Linked DNA regions of Homo sapiens: region 2 is linked to region 1. A link means that fine-mapping ties the variant in region 1 to the expression of a gene that starts in the linked region. Tissue or cell type: lung. Region 1 holds a variant in brackets; the other region holds the start of a gene. All regions are shown on one strand. Distances are from middle to middle.

Region 1 (2,678 bases):
GAATGTTAGCAGCCGTGTCCTATGGCGTGGGCTCCCTCCCTCCGTTTCCAAAGGGGCAGATACAGGAGAAGGTGGAGGGCTCTGCACAGCTGCCTTTGGTGCCTGAAGTCCCACTGAGGCAAATCTGGGCCACACAGCCTCACTCCATTACCGCCTTTATGAGTGATTTCTGGAGATATTCCAAGCCCAGCACATTCTTATCCTCAGGTATTTTAGAGATCTATTCGTAGGGCACAAATCATCCCCAAACTTAGCAGCTTAAAACAATATACATTTGGCCAGGCATGATGGCTCACGCCTGTAATCCCACCACTTTGGGAGGCCAAGGCGGGCGGATCACCTGAGGTCAGGAGTTTGAGATCAGCCTGACCAACATGGAGAAACCCCATCTCTACTAAAAATACAAAAAATTAGCCGGGTGTGGTGGTGCATGCCTGTAATTCCAGCTATTCGGGAGGGTGAGGCAGGAGAATCATTTGAACCTGGGAGGCAGAGGTTGCAGTGAGCCGAGATTGTGCCCCTGCACGCCAGCCTGGGCAACAAGAGTGAAACTCCGTCTCAACAACAACAACAACAACAACAACAACAACAACAAAAACCCCAAAACCAATATACATTTGTATACATTTATCCTCTCACTGAGCTTCTGAGGGTCAGGAATCCAGGAGCAGCTTAGCTGGGTGGCCCTGATTCAGGGTCTCTCTTAAAGTTGTGGTCAAGATGTCAGCTGGGACTGGGCGTGGTGGCTCACGCCTGTAATCCCAGCACTTTGGGAGGCCAAGGCGGGCAGATCATATGAGGTCAGGAGTTTGAGACCAGCCTGGACAACATGGTGAAACACCTTCTCAACTAAAAATACAAAAATTAGCCAGGCATGGTGGCACGCACCTGTAATTCCAGCTACTCAGGAGGCTGAGGCAGGAGAATTATTTGAACCCAGGAGGCAGAGGTTGCAGTGAGCCAAGATCGCGCCATTACACTCCAGCCTGGGTGACAGCAAGAGTCCATCTCAAAAAAAAAAAAAGATGTCAGCTGGGATGACCGACTCCTGAAGGCCTGACTGGGGCTGGAGGATCTGCTCCCAAGGCAGCTCACATAGTTGGCAAGTTGGTGCTGATTGATGACAGGCGGCCTTGGTTCCTCACGCATGGGCTTCTCCACAGGGCTGCTTGTACATCCTCACAACATGGTGGCTGCCCTCCCCAAGAGGAAGCGTTCCAACATGGCAGGGTTGAAGCCACCAATCTCTTTTATGGCCTAGCCTTGAAAATCACACGCTATCACTCCTGCTGTACTCCCTTGGTCACCCAGGCCAACCCTATTTAATGTGAGAGAAGACCACACAAGGTTGTAACTAGCAGGAGGTAGGGGTTGCTGG[G/A]GCCATCTTGGAGGCTGGCTACCTCACCAGCCTTTGGGTTAATCTTCAGGTAAATCTTCAAACTTTATACTCAGTGGTTCCCATGCCTCCGAGAACTACCTAAGAGAACCCATTTATGCCTGAGGTTGCAATTTTTTGAATTTTTGCAATGAGACCTTGGCGGTGCCCTTGAGCAGTAGGATATAAATAACTCCCACATGCTTAGTGTTCCAATAATGGAACACTAGGCATAAATGGGTTTAAGCATCTTCTATCCATGAGGGGCTCTGTGTTTGAAGAAGGATGAGGAAGATGCCCCGTGCAGGCCCCACCAACTTCCCAGTGGCTCACTTCCTGCTTTGCCCCTCACTCACTGGCACTTTCTGTGTTTCAGCAGCCTGTTCTGGCCATAGCAAAAAGGGGTCCTCCAGCGACTGCCACAGCTGTTCCAACAACAGCCTCAGCCTTTGGCATTTCATGGTTTCCTCAGGAAACTGACTAGATGAGCCCATTTCTTAGGGACAGCCCAGTTTAAGACCACAGGGACAACCTTGAACCCACTAACTCTATCCTCATCTCACTCTACCAGCCAGCTACAGTGAAGGTTCTTTTGGAGGCCAGTGACAGAAGCCAACTCAGCCAAAAGTGGAATCCAAGGCCGGGCGCGGTGGCTCACGCCTGTAATCCTAGCACTTTGGGAGGCCGAGGTGGGCGTATTACCTGAGCTCAAGAGTTCAAGGCCAGCCTGAGCAACACGGCGAAAACCCGTCTCTACTAAAATACAAAAAATTAGCCGGGCGTGGCGGCATGCGCCTGTAGTCCCAGCTGCCTCGCCTGTAGTCCCAGCTACTTGGGAGGCTGAGGCAGAAGTGCTTGAACCCGGGAGGCGGAGCTTGCAGTGAGCCAACATTGCGCTACTGCTCTCCAGCCTGGGCGACAGAGCGAGACTCCACCTCCAAAAAAAAAAAAAGTGGAATCCAGTGGGAGGGTGCCAGAGTGCGTCACAGTACAAAGGGAAATTGAAGAGCCAAGGCCCAGGAAGGGCAGGGACCAGGGCAGTCCTGTGGATGCTAACAGCGGGGGTTCATGGGCTCTCACTGTGGAGCACAGCTAGACTTGGTACCAGAGACTTGTCTCTGCTCCAATTTCCTGGCAGACAGAATCTAATTGGCTCAGCCGTGTCAGGTGCCCATCCCTGGTCCAATCAGCAATGGCGGGGTAGGGGTGGACTCCCAGCCATGATGGCGTAGGGGTGGGGCAGGTCCTAGGGCAGTTAACACAGCTGAGGGCCAAGAAACTCACTAGGAGGATAGCTACTCAA
Region 2 (2,678 bases), 330 kb after region 1:
CTGAGGAGACAGGTGATCCATAGCAAAGCAGCCTTCCCACCCCCTGACTCCCATCAAGACCCCAGCCCCCACTCACCGCTAAACTTCCGATTCAGATGCAGCCCTGTCCCTACTCTAGACATCCAACATACTTGCAAGCCCCACACAGTTCCCTCCACCAGATGTGCTCTCTCTCCATCTCTACCTTCCAGGCTCATTACTGATGCCACCTCCTCCAGGAAGCACTCCCTCTCATTCCCTCTGAACTTCCAAAGTCCTTGCTATGCCTTAAACTAGAAGAAGAGCTAACACTCCCATCCCCTCCACACACCTGTACTAATTTTCAGATGAGGAAATAGGCAGAGAGAGGAGGGGACTTCTCAGTGAGCTAAAGGCAGAACTGATACCGGGCCCAGGTATGGGTGAGCAAAATCCACCGCCTGAGAGAGGCTGTTTCCTCCTGGGGGGCAGGCTATGGCTGGGGAGACCCATGCAACTTGGCTTAGGTGCAAGAACCCCCTTACCTGGACATGCCTCTGAGCGGTTGTAGATGGAGCAACCTTCCTTGACCACCTCAGATTGGGCCACACAGTGTCCTGGTGAGAGAAGGTGCAGGGGGGAGGTTTGGGGAGAGGGGCCAGGGCCTTGGGGTTCAGAGCTGGGGGCACTCAATCTGGGGAGGGCTCAGCTCCATACCTGGCTCCTCTGGCCGGCACTGCTCCCACACGCAGCTGGAGAGATTGCGCGCTCCGTCTCCCTCCACGCAGTGCTCACAGACCTCCAGCTGTTTGCAGGCCCCTTGGACCGCCGGCCAGATATTCAGGCGGATCAGGGCTCCCCTCCCAAAGCCTCGAGCTCCTTTACCTGGTAGTGCGGTGGAGTGGGAAGGGAGAATTCCTCGAAGCCAAGCTGTGGCACCCGCCCACCCTCCCACCCAACACTCCGGTGGCCCTCGCCCCTCTGCACACATCTGGGCTCTCACACTCACCCCTGGATCCCCAAGCCCCAGCGCACACCTGGAGCTTCCACAGCAGAGGTCTACACACACCTAGAGCCTCCCCACATTCACCCAGAGCCCCTCCCTTTGCATACACCCGGGGTTCCCAGATTCAGTTGGAGCCACCTCCCCCAGACCACCTGAAGCTCCCTAGGCCCCCACACCTGGGGCCTATATTTACACACAGGGCTCCACACAGAGCTGGAGCCCCCTCTCCCACCCCTGGAGGCCTGCACTTGGCCGGAAAGCCCCCTCCCCTCAAGCCCAGGCTGCTCCTGGGGAGACGGCTGGCTGAGGTGCAAGCTCCATCCGTCCCCGTCGAGCCCCTAGCCAGACCCTGCCGCGAGTTACCAGCCACAGCCAGCTGGGCACATAGGAGGAGGCAGCAACAGCCGCCACAGAGCGCAGTCCGCAAGGCGCGGGGTCCCGGAGCCTCCATGGGCTCGCGGGGTGGGGGTGGCCGGGGGCGGTGGCCGGGATCGGTGGACAGCTGCCGGGCGCGTCCCTCCCAGACTGGGCTCGGCTGAGCGTGTGCGGAGCGAGACCTGGGCAACCGGGGCGTGGCCAGGTGGGGGCGTGGCCAGTGGGAGCGGCAGGTGGGGCGGGGCTCGTCGGTCGGGGCGGAGCCAGGTGAAGGCGGGGCCAGTTAGGGGCGTGGCTAGTGTGCGCGGCCAGGTGAGTTCGGGGGTCTGGGGCGGGGCTTGGACTAAAGCAGGTGGGGTCCAGGACTGGTGGCTGGCGTGGTTACTATGTGCCTCCAAGGGCAGCTTCTTGAAAATTCTGGAAAGTACCGACTGCTTTGATCCTTACTTCACAGGTGAGGAAACTGAGGCTCAGACAAGATGAGTGACTCGTTCGAGGTCACGGAGAGAGGCAGTGGCAAAAATCTGGATTCGAGACGAGGTCACTTCCCTGCCTTCAGGGCTCGGTGCAGGCCCCGCTTTGTACACCCTCCACCCAGGCCCCATGACCGCTGGGCCGGGCCCTAGCTGGCCCCTGCCCTCTGGCTGCCCAAGCTTAGCTTCGGTGCTCCCTCTCCATTCACTGCACCCCTCCACCCGCCTCCCTTCTGCCCCTCATCCGCTGTGTCTGCCTCTGGCCTACCACACCCTCTGGCCAGGTCAGGGGTGACGCCATTACTAGGCCAACTGGGCCTCTCCGCAGCCTTCCCCACGGCTACCACTCCTGCCCTGGCACCAGCCTCTTTTGGTTCTCCTCAGGCTCCTTAGGGGGCACTTCCTCTCCTTCCTCTTCCTCCTCCCCTCCTCTCCCCTCCTTCCCCCATCTGCTTCTCCTAACCCTCTCTTAATCGATGGTGGCCCAGGTTAGTCCCAAGCCCTGTTCCACACTCTCCTGGGGTCATCCTGGACATTCCACTGCCATCAGTCCCCACTTGAAACCCAACAGCTGAGGCAGGAGGATTGCTTGAGCCCAGGGATTTGAGGCTGTAGTGAGCTGTGATCATGGCATTGCACTCCAGCCTGCGCAACAGAGTGAAACCCTGTTTTAAATGAATGAATGAATGAATGCCAACAGGTCACGTATCCCAATAAATATATACACCCACTATGCACCCATTAAAAAAATTTTTTTTGAGCCAACAGATCTCTTAATCATCTCCAGGCCAGTTCTGACTTCACAACTGCCACACCTGTAACTGACAATATATAGCTAGCAATTATTGACCCCTTACTAGCCGAAT

Alleles and levels. Alleles are on the strand shown, and positions count from the first base shown. SD is a standard deviation of normalised expression in the study named.
As copies of A replace G in region 1, the expression in lung of the gene that starts at base 1,509 in region 2 goes down (moderate effect, 0.53 SD a copy in GTEx).

The links. PIP is the estimated chance that this variant, and not a neighbour inherited with it, causes the effect.
Region 2: it holds the start of CD164L2, and the variant in region 1 is fine-mapped to the expression of CD164L2 in lung (GTEx, PIP above 0.99).

The regions. Positions count from the first base shown.
Region 1 is chr1:27,050,171-27,052,848 of GRCh38, forward strand. The region is part of intron 5 of LOC101928391 (a long non-coding RNA gene); the gene reads left to right. Among named protein-coding and RNA genes, the nearest start is that of TENT5B, 39 kb to the left of the region's middle. RefSeq lists enhancers at 1-283, 284-1,099. The variant G/A (reference allele first, on the strand shown) is at 1,379.
Region 2 is chr1:27,381,825-27,384,502 of GRCh38, forward strand. CD164L2 (CD164 molecule like 2) reads right to left here and starts at 1,509. Exons shown (of 6, transcript NM_001330448.1): 1 at 1,328-1,509; 2 at 676-843; 3 at 504-575. The coding sequence starts at 1,415.